2 linked regions of the Homo sapiens genome follow. The protein of the gene in region 2 purifies or fractionates together with the protein of the main gene of each other region. This does not show direct contact. Each region holds a gene or a part of one and is shown on either strand. Other genes may lie near its edges.

What was found.
Region 1: the proteins of RETREG1 (region 2) and LAPTM4B purify together in Homo sapiens (affinity purification with mass spectrometry; 3 studies listed by BioGRID and IntAct, with this or other methods). This does not show direct contact.

The regions. Positions count from the first base shown.
Region 1 is NC_000008.11:97,848,780-97,853,544, reverse strand, and holds the end of LAPTM4B (lysosomal-associated transmembrane protein 4B), read right to left. Parts: intron 2,149-4,765; coding exon 2,071-2,148; 3' UTR 532-2,070; downstream 1-531. UniProt on the Homo sapiens protein: Required for optimal lysosomal function. Blocks EGF-stimulated EGFR intraluminal sorting and degradation.
Region 2 is NC_000005.10:16,480,969-16,488,007, forward strand, and holds part of RETREG1 (reticulophagy regulator 1), read right to left. Parts: intron 2,505-7,039; coding exon 2,378-2,504; intron 126-2,377; coding exon 41-125; intron 1-40. UniProt on the Homo sapiens protein: Endoplasmic reticulum (ER)-anchored autophagy regulator which mediates ER delivery into lysosomes through sequestration into autophagosomes.

The DNA of each region.
Region 1 (4,765 bases), on a different chromosome or scaffold from region 2:
AAAAGAAGCAGAAGCAAGCACTTCCAGCCAGGCCACCAAGCACCATCACTTACCTAACTGACAGCCCAAAGCCAGCATTATATGTAACTCTGGCAGGACTAATCCCCTTCGTTGCCCCACCACTGGTCATGCTGATGACAAAAACTTATATTCCCATATTAGCTTTTACTCAGATGGCTTATGGAGCCAGTTTCCATCTTTCTTGGGTGGGATCAGATGCGGTTTTGCTCTACCAGAAGGTAGTCCAGCCAAACCAGACTACCTTAATTTAGCTAGCAGTACAGCTCCTCTTTTCTTTTCATGGTTTGCCTTCTTATTTCTGAAAGACTTAGTGAAGCCATAGTCACAGTAATAATGGGTATGCGGGTAGCATTACACCTTCAACTTTTTCTCTTACCACATTATCCCAACTGGTTTAAAGCCCTGAAGATAGTAGTCACTTTACTGGCCACTTTTTCATTTATAATCACTTTAGTAGTTAAAAACAGTTTTCCAGAAAAAGGACATAAGAGACCTGGTCAAGTATAAAAAATCTAAAAATACACTGTAGATAACATTTGTATGCCGGCTACACCTTTTTCTACTTCTGTTTGGCTTTTTTCCCCCACACCAATGGTAATTTATTCTCCACGGATTGTTCTTCATTTCTAGAAATTGTTATTTCATAGTAATTACTTGAGCAAAAGCTTGAAAATCCCTGACAAGTACTTTTCATCTCATAGTGTATTAGTTTTCACTCAGTCATTTTATGAATAATATAGTTATCCACTTAAACATTTCAATATTTTAACCATCTTGAAAATTAAAAGATTAAAAATCCCCCCCACCCGACCTCCCCCCCCCAAAAAAAAGCCTACTCCTTAGGCTGAACTGGGTGCATCTGCCAGACCATATGTGGAGGGAAAGGTCCTCAGACACAATCAGCACAAAATCACAAGGTCATCTTGGATGTGGGCAAACCTTGTTTTAATTGCAAACAACTTAATTTACAGCACATTCAATAATGAACCAACAGGAGAGTTGCTGACTTTGTAACATATGAATATATAAAAATCCCTTGCAATTCAGGTAGTCAAGGTAAAAAGCGCATACAAGGAAGGCAATCCTCATTTTTCTGAAAATGTTTACATTTTAAAAGGTGACTAGACATACTTGGAAGTTCAAAGCAGTAGGATGTAGCTTGCAGGGAAAAGAAAACCCTTTTCCATGTTGTTAGGCAGAAGTATATCAAATATATCCCAATTCCACTTGATAAAGTCAGTTGGATGACCTCCTTGAACCAATCTAGGGCAGAACACTTAGTAAAAGCGGGCCCTGGGTGGGGATGTGAATCCAGGAGAAGAGGGGCACCAGATCCCATGCAGCGCCAAACACATCCATTCCACCCTCTAACACATACGAGGCATGTCACCCCATGTCCCTGGACACAAGATCCACAAGAACAGTCAGCAGATGGTCACTGCTCCCACGGCCTGGTGCTTTCTAATGGTCTTAATTCAGGCCATGGAGAAAATCCTTTACCACCAAACACAAACTGTCATTGAACTTCAGTCATAAAGGATGTTGTGGGGGAAATTCTTGTAACACATACATAAGGACTTCTATTTACCTAATTAGAACAATGATTACACAATTGACATTCCTGTTTCCATAAGGTTTTGTTCTCTATGCTGGAATGGCTGAAGAAAAAGTTGTCTATTTTTGGTTTTATTTTACATTTTCAAAAGAGAGGGAACAGAGAGAAAAATGCCCAACTTTGGGGCCCAGCAGGTACAAAAGCAGACTTCTAGGTCCATCAGATTTGGGGGAAGTTTCAATGCCTAGGGAAGGTTAGTGAAGCCCATTATATCCCCAATCGTACAGGAAGAATTCTACAGTTAATCTATCACAGTGTTCCAGCAAAGCATATGTTGAAAACTACAGTTTTCAATCTAACATCTAAATTTTAAAAAGTAGCATTTCAGCAACAAACAAGCTCAGAGAGGCTCATGGCAAAAGTGAAATAACAGAACTATTGCTCAGATGTCTGCAAAGTCAAGCTGCTGCCCTCAGCTCCGCCCACTTGAAGGCTTAGGCAGACACGTAAGGTGGCGGTGGCTCCTTGGCAGCACCATTCACAGTGGCATCATCATACGGGGGTAGCAGCACCTGAGAAGAAAGAGGGACGGCAAGAGTTAATGTTTGAAGAGCACACACGTTCCCCGAGGTTTAGCTTTTACTGAACTTTTATGCAACTAAACATGTTCCACAACTTGTACCAAGTTCAATTTTCTAGCAAGTGGATACACTTCATTAAAAGACTTTTTGAATCCTTAAAGGAGCAAATGGAGAGCGACTCTCAAGCCTTGAGTTTTTCTAACCCTGTCCATGTGTAGCTGGATGGCCAGAGGTCGGTGACTCTAAAAGAAATGGTGATGGCTCTGAAGAGGAAAAAAGACCCCTAGGTGAGTGTGTCCATGTGCACACACAAATAGGGCAGGCACTTGATTGACTACAGTAACCACTCATGGTGAGAACTGCAAAGTGCAGTGAAAACGCCAAGCTTTTGGTATCAGCCTGGATTCAAAGCCTGGGTCAGTCACATTTTATCAGCGTAGCCTTGGGTAAGTTCCTTAACATCAGTTTCCATGTCTATGAAATAAGGATACCTCAGAGTTGGCGGTCTATACACTGGCTGATTTCGGCTTTCTTGGAGTAGAAAATGGAATACAGAATAGTTATATCACCCTTCATTCAGTAAACTAACATTTATTATGCATCTAGTATGTAATAGTCATTGTGAGTATAAGATAATTGAGACAAAAGACAGTCCCTGCCCTTTAGGAGTTCAGAGATGAGAAGACAAAACAAAACCTCACCCACCTCAAGTGATTTGTGGAAAGGGAAAGACTATTCACAAACAAAACCACACTTGGTTAGATTTTCTATCAGGGATATCACTTATGCTTAAAGTGGTATTCATCAATTTTGTTAATTTTCATTTATCTGTCCCTTTAGCTCCTACTAGAACCACACTAAAATTTTGTTAAGTTTTTGTCACATTGCACTCTCCCAAACACACACACACACACACACACACCCCTCCTCTCCAGCTCTACACACTTCATTACTTCTCTCCTCCCAGTCTTGGAGCTCCTGTGGGGCTGAAGCCAGGTCTCACTTCCTCGAGGGTGGGCCAGTGCCTATCCGACAGCAGGAACTCAGATGTTTGCGGAGTGACGGAGGTGCCACTTAGGCCGGCCCCCGAAAAGCCTGTATGGTTCCTTCAGCTGCCTAGGCAGAGGGCACCTGTACTGGCTAGGGTCCAGTCAGAACACAGAAGCCACACAGTGATGTGAATATAGTTTCATGAAGAATTATTAACAGGAGACTGAGGAACCGGGAACTGACTCATGGCGGGGAAAGAGCACTAATGGATAAGAAGATTGAAGTACGGCACTCAGGGACGGAACAAGCTAGAACAGAGGTCCCCAAGGCTGGGCTGAGACACGGCTAGGGAGGGTGTGGCTGAAGCCCATTGGACAGTGGAGAGGCTTCCCGCTGAACCAGGTAGAGGCCAGTGTGCACAGAATCACCTGCGGGAAGCCGTTCCCGGGAGCCACGGCCCGCTCTGGAAACCGCCTGAGAGGCGCTGCCACCGCTGTCTCCGCTCGCACTGGGCCCTGGGGAGCACTGCCAGCAAGATCTGAACACTGCAGAAACACACAGGAACCGGGGGCGGGCAGGCGGGCAGGGGGGTGGAGGAGGGGGGGTGGCGGCTTTCCTCCTCCAGTGCCCCCTACTGGCCTGGCTGAACAGGGTCAGGAGGTGAAGGAGGAGTATCTGCAAGGCCCAGCCCATGTCAAGCTAAATGGGACTCTGGAGCTGTGATGCAAGAAGCCGATAACTGGCCAGCAACACACAGGCAAAGGCAATGCGCCAGAGTCGCACCCGCCAGCCGGCCTTTGTTCCTGAAAGAGGTAGTGATCTTTGCCTATGTGCTAAATACTTTATATGTCAGGTATTAACCAAGATACAGAGTCTGGGGCAAATGTTCAGCGTTGCCCACGTGGAAAAGGAATGGAGTAGGCAAGATACACTCAGTACAGAACACATGCCTGAGGTAAGGAAGCACAGCAGGAAACTAAGTCCAACAAACCAGCACCCACTGAGCACCTAGGTGTCCAGGGAACTCAGTCACAGCGACTTGAACCTGAAAACATGTCACTGTCTGTTCAGGGGCCTGCAATCTAGCAGAAGGCAGACACAGGTAAAACTCAACATGAGCAATGTGTGGATGCAGACAAGTTAGGAAAGAACAGACAAGGACAACCAATTTAGGCTAGGGAGTCAAGGAAGGCCTCTCAGTAGGATGACCAGGTGTGCAGTAAAGAGGATGACATTCCAGTAGGGAGTTAAGAGGAAAGCAGGACACAGGGCACTTTCTGGGAACTGCAAGGTGTTTGCTACAGTGAACACTGAAGGGAGAATGTTGCAGAGATGAAGTTGGAAAGATAGGCACAGGTCAGCACATGAAGAGAGCCTCATGGTCGACCTTGACAAGTTCTAGCCAGTATCTAACAACAGCATCTCCACTAGCAATTCCAAAAGTGTCAGCTTGAGCTGCGGGAAGAAAAAAGTATTCTCTAAAACAAAGCAACAGCTGTCTTCTCTGCGTGTGCATATTTGACTTTAGGACTGAGCCCCCAGCGCACATACGTGTGTGTGCATTAGATACAGCAACTTATAACAAGTGGAAACAGCTGTGACCGCACCAGAAATATTA
Region 2 (7,039 bases):
ATGCATCACAACACTTAGCCATATGTTCTACTATACTTACACAGTAGATAGCTGAGTATAACCCCAGGAATGTAACTTCCCAAGATCGTAAAAAATGTGCACACACTACAGACCAGGAGACAAAACTGGAAATAATAGAAATAACATGGGATAGTTAAGCATAACACCAAGATATTTCGGAGCACAGGATACACACACAATTGTAAATCTATAGTGACCGGTATAAGTGACCTATCTGGTTATTACAGATTTTTTCCAAAGAGCATTATTTTGCACTAAGGGCTGACTAATGACTGCTGCATTCAACCAGTCTTAGTCCATTTCAACACTTGGTAATAATTATTTTGAGGACACAGGAGCTAATTTCTGGCACAGAGAGTGACAACTCCCATTACTCATGCCTGTGGCTATATTACTGCCAGGTGCAAGAGAACAGAAAACTATTATGTTCCCAGAAACTTCTTTTACTTCGCTCATTTAAGGAAATTAATGCGGCCTGATAACTACATCTGAAAGTTCAAACTACCACTATAAGCCCACTGAAATTCATAAAAACACAGCAAAACAAGTTACAGAAATTAGAGGTATCTACACAAATCTAACGTAATTTACACAAATCTAATGTAATTTATAGCTGCTAAGCTGACAGGATAAATTTATGGCCATCACTATCCTCTTTCCTAACCATATATACTGCTCAAACTGACCCCACTTCTAAGTCACCTAGAAAAAAACTGCCATTGAAATGAAACTCCTACAGTGACATGTTTATTTTCCTTCTGTCATTTATGGTTAAAAAATCTTGATTGTTTTAAGAAATTTAAAAACATCAGAAAATATCCTTAATTCCCTTTAGAAACATCAAGGCAGAAAAATGTTACCATAAAGTCTTCACCTGATTTTTCACCCTCCAGTCTTAAACTGTCTTACATTTTTCGTCATCTTTAAACAGTGATAGTAAATTAAACTGATAAGCAAGCAAAGGAAATTCATTAAGGGAGTTTCTAAAAGATACAGGAGGAAGGAATACATACCTCTGACCAATAACTGATGATGATAAAGAGCAAAGGGGTCTAAATCTAAGTTTAATTTTGATTTTTCATTCTTCGGTACAGAGTTAATAAATTAACTAGTCAAAAGTAGATTAGATGACTTGTGGAACAAAATTAAGAGCTGTTTCTAAAACAGCAAGGGCCCTTGAAAGAATCTGGAATTCTATAAATGAAATGGAAAGGCCATAAAAGTCAAAGGAACAAATAAGCCAAGAAAAGCATTACTATATCCAGAATTTAGTTTTACAAAGGGATTTCATAATATGCCCTACATTTGTAGCATCATCATTTTAAGCTAATTGACTTGGGGCACATTAATGCAACCCAATGCAGAAGTTTGAAGTTTAGAATCTTCCAAAAATACATTTAATCACTTCAGTAAAATCAACATCAACAGCACATCATGCCCCAAATATAGGTATCTATGCTAAAAAAAAAAAAATGCCTTCAATGAATAAAAAAAATGCATCCAAATGCAATACTGCCACTTTAATACACTCAAAATGTCTCCAAGCATAGTTCTATTATTTAATACTATTGAAGTTACGATATTGCCTATACAAGGTACAAAGACAGAGATTTTCAATGCTGACATTCCTAGCTCTTCATTCTATCCACGGGTGGATATTCAAGGAGCTTGAAAGCAACACTGGAATAGACAAGGTCTATTGATGGTTCTGCACCTCACCCAAGCTATCAAGACAGTTGATCAGAATTAAAGCTGCCTTTATGCATAAAATAATACAAGTATGTGCAGCACTCCATGTAATCCCTTCCCAACCATGTAAGACACTTCCCCCTCATGGGTTTTATCTTAATTGGAAAAATACTCATTTTGTTTATATAATCACTATGAATGTTTTTGCCAAAAGTTTTCTTTCTTAAATAAGTAAATCATACAAGAATCTCCACTTTTTAGCTTGAAAATAAGATTCAGTTATCTCCAAAAGCACAGTCAAAGAACTATGTATTCATTTCATCTCCCTTTGACTTCAGCACCAGGCTAAATACGATAACTGAAATTCTTAAGACTGTTTTCTCCCTAGTCTTGCTGATAAGACCAATCACCATTCATTTTAGCTAATGAGCTAGATAAATATATATAAAATGTAAAACCAATCCAATTTCACAATGTGAGGCTGAGGATTATCTAGTGTTCGCACACTCACACATCTGAACCTTGCTGATACCAGCTTTTATGGCATATGTTCTTAGTATATTATATTTAAAATTGGAGAAATCTGACAAGCTGATAAAATAGGTTAGTTCATTTGTTTCCAAGTAACTGAACATTTTAAAACATACTCCTTTACTGGAAAACTTGCCTTGCCAGGGCTCTGCTGTTTAAAAAGAGACATTTCTTGAAGAAATATGCTGAAATTCATCCATGATTCTGCAATACAGTGGCTGAGCCTGGGTCTTTCATCTGGTTTGGAATTGATAACTTCCCAGCTAAAGAGACAAAAAGAAAAAAAATACTACTGAACTTTGGATGATTCATTCAACATTTATGGCTTTGGCAAATATTTATTGAGCATCTACTGTTGGCCACACCCTCTGGAAAAGCCCTGTGAATTCAGAAGGGAACTATCCAGACACCTGCTTCAGGAAACTCACATGTCAAAAGAAACAATTAGCTGTCTAATTAATTGTCTGTTTACAATCAGGGAAACACTCAGGGAGAACAGGGTGAGGCTTAGGGACATCTTTAATGAAGAGTCATTTTAAAACTCAGATATGGGATGGATCAGCAGGTTAATCATAGGGTTCCAGGTAGAACAACATGCAATATATGCAGAAGCCCTGGAGTGGGAAGGAGCTTAAATGTGCTATCCTATTGAGTCTCAATGTGACTCCAGCAAAGTCAACCAGAAGAAAAACATGTGAAGCTGGAGGGGTAGGAGGAGACTAGGTCATGGAAGACTTGTTAGAAACGTCTTAAACCTTAAGGATTGGGAAACCACAGTACTTTTAGAGAAACCTTGGAATTAAGCATACAATATTAAGAATAAATACCAACAATGTATTTTCAATATATACCATGGTTGGAAAACTCTATAGAAAATTGTTAAAAAGATCTTACAATATCCTCTATTTTTCCAGAGTACATTTTCCTAATCATCATCTAGAATGTGTTGAGTGTGATGCATGGGCCGGCAACCAGCTTTCTCCCTGCCCTCATTTTCCACAGGAACCTCAGTGAGCTAAAAACTAGAAACAATCACTCCAGGAAGAAGACACATGTAAATACATGTCATTCCCTAACATTACAATGACATAAAGCTTAATTCCTGCTCTTGCAATCCTAACTCATAAAAACATACCAGTTCAAACAAGCCCTGTTAAGAATCCTCAAATTCATTCATTTAAGAGATTATTGAGAGATATGTGTCTACCATGTTGAAGGCACTGCCACAGAGCTATGGATATGGCAATAACAAAAGCAGCAAAGTTTCTAGAAGAAGACTAGAATTGTTAGTGAACTATCATCTGAGCTGTGGTAGGGTACCAGGGTGAGGCTGATCTCTGGATTCAATTCCAGTAGCCCTAAGACAAATCAAAACTACCTTTGCCCTTAGATGCTCAACTATACAGAAGTTTATGTACATACAGATTCTGTGACTTTTAATATATTTTGAATAGTAAGGCAATTTGTAAATTACAATTCCTTTTTATAAAAATAATTTTAATCCAAGTTTAAATGAGTGCAATAGCATATTTTAAAAGGGGGGAAGTATACCATTTTCCTTCCTCTTTGTTCTTTCAGCCTCAACTAATGCTCTGGAGAGTCACTGAGCTACCAGTTGTCCAGGCTGATGTTATTCCTGCAGGTAGATTTCCTGTCTGTCAGAAGAAATGAACTTTTGGGGATGGTTTATGCATCCATTAACTCTACCCACTCTTGAATCACTGAGCAAATCTGTTTTCAGCAGGACCATATCTGGCACCAGGTTTGCATACCCCATGATTCCACATCTATTAAAATACTAAGTGCATAGCTAAGAAGCAGATATCTGTGGCAAAATCTTGCCACAGATATCTGCTTAGTGGGAAAAGATTTTGCACCAGAGAGCAAAAGCTATATGGCAAAGGAAATATAAGGTTATTAAAATGCAGTCTGTTTTCTCAGAATAATATAGATTTGCTGCAAATTGGCACAGACAGGCTAAGCTACTGTTCAGTTTAATGGGACCATGAAGATGACAGAAAACATTTTAATTTCTGCTCTCTATGCATATTGAATAATTATTTAAGGATGCATTTGAACTGTTTGCCCAATATAATTCTAACAAAAATCAATGAAAAGCTATAATGGAAGGATTTGTTATTTTCTTTTAAACATTAAGATGGAATAAATGAACAGTTCATAACTCCTGGCCTCAAACAATCCTCCCACCTTGGCCTTCCAAAGTGCTGGGATTACAGGCATGAACCACTGCGCGAGGACAAAAAAATATTTTTTTGAATGAATAGTACTTTGTACAGATGCTGGAACTTTGTTCTAATATCATCTTTAGGATTCATGTCTTGGAAATGACACCATATCCATATTTGTTTACATATTTTTTATTACTGCTTAAGTAAATGTCCCCAAATTGTAAAAGAGCCTAGTATAATACTAAATTGTCACTATAGAGATAATGTTAGAACAAAGACTTCATATAACTTAAAGTGTTTTATAGAGATTACTATGAAATAACTAAAAACTCTCTTTAGCATTTAAGGAAGGGTCTTATCTATTTTCCACAGGGGACTTCAAGTGGACACCATCTATCCACTAATTTATTCATTTATTCAATAAAAAGTTATTAAGTTCCCCCTTTGTGTCTTGCATCACACTAAATGTGGAAAATACTGTTATCAAAAACTTGAATGCTGGTAGCACTATTCCTCTGTGTCTATAGATAAACACTATTTGCTGGAAAGAAAGAAAAAAATATGCAATCTTTGACTATCTTCCATAGTCATAAGAAAACACTCTTAATTATATTACATTTTTCCCTTTTAAAAAGCTTCATATAATAGTTTTTTGGGACAATAAATTTCATCATTACTTACATTTTTATTAACACAATAAATTATAATTGATATTTGAATTGTTATAATCACAAACAGAAATGAGAAATTCATTGTGTACAACCTGAAAATAATATCTAACCAAATGGGTTTGTAAAGAGTAATAAGTGTTTGAGATTAAAAATAAATGTTCAGATTGGGCTGAATAAAATTTAATCGAAATATATATGATTTAAAAAGAAAATGTAAGTTCCAGGGTGAAAAAAAGATGTCACTCCACATCTTTTCTTCTGGACCAAAAACAGGTGCTCCCTGGGAGTTTAACAATAGTTTTAAATTGCCCAGTGATTAATTCTGAGTACCATAGGAACTCACATTTCTATAGTCTTCCAGTGAGTTTACCATTAATTTATGTCACCACAGTTCAATTTAGGTTATACAGAATTAGATAATTTGTCATGAGACGGGACATTTGATGTCAACTTTTCAAATTCCCTTATTTTATAGGTGAGGAACGTGAAATCCAACTTTTTGCAGCTAGTATGAGGCAGAGCCAAGACCCAAGGCCAGGACTCTGGGTTTCCAATACAGTTCTGATCCTTTAAAATGTGTGCCCTCTTCAAAGGGTGAATACATTCAATGATATTCTTTGAAGAGACCACATGGCAATTCAGAATGAGAAGGAGCATTTCATGTTCCTCACTCCTTCCTAGAACCAGAAGAGATGAGGTGTGATTGACCAATACCAACGTGCCATCATGCAGGACCAACCCTTTCCAGGAAAACAGAGCACTTCATGTGCAGAATCCAAATACTCAGCAGAAACCAAGATCTACGCTTAGTGGTTGGTTGATGTTTAACACAGGTGTCATCTGCACACACACACATACACACGCTGAGTTGCTACGTAATGAAACTCTAGGTTTTCCCAGAGAGCCTTATTTGGAAAACACATAACTAGAAAAAAGATCTCCTGTGAATGCTGGGCAAGGCTTGGGGAACAGATCTTTTCCATGGTGTGTAGCTGTCTTCCCACCATCCTTGGCACTGATCACCATGCAACATAAGGCCCAACTAACATAAAAGGAAATGAAAATACCTAAGGCTTCAAAACATTTTGAGTTTGTACTAAGTTCCTAAACAAACAATACAAGTCTTCTGTGACTGACGCTCAACTAAGGGAGAAAATTCATTACCAGTAGCTTTATTAATATTTCCTCCTTAGTTTCAGAGAGACCATGCACTTTCCAAGTTCAAAAGGAAATAGGTTCTTTGGTTCATCTTTCTATCCATCTCCCCTCCCTCTCGCCAGCCTTCCAGCTTTCTCTCACACTCTTGCCTTCACTAAGGAGTGAACTCACCACACACTCCAGCCACAAGATAAAGACCATTTAAGAGTCACCCCCGATGACCATCATCCCCAACTTTCCATCCTCGTAGCCAGTCCAGTTCAAGTAGTTCCCAGGGAGAAGTCACTACAAGCCCCAGCCTCTACATGGCCATGCCATCTATCAAATGGGCTTTGCTCAAGGATCTGTAACTGTAAATGACTCCCAAAAAAGCCCCAGCAGATGCCATCTGGTTAAGTTTTCCTTCTTACGGAAAAACTAGTCAGGTGTTTTGATGAAGGCCATTCTCCAATCAAGCAATTCTTTATCAAAGAAGCCTAAGCCAGGGCAAAGTCCTTTTTCAGCAGCTGAAGAATTTCTGGTTTTACCTGCCAGTGAAACTCTAAGGGAATAAAACATGGAAAGATGGCTCCTTAGATAAGCAAACTCACTTTGTCCACAGAAAGGAGCTTTGGCTTCTCAGTAGAATTTCAAACCAACATCCCTTCTTTCTTCCTCCCTGTCCCTATTAGAATACAATTTACCATATACATTGGGAGGTCTGGCCAAATAAGCCCTTCATGCAGTTCCTGCAGCTGTAGTTGTGAGACACCCAGGGCACTGTTTAAGCAGCAGCTGTGT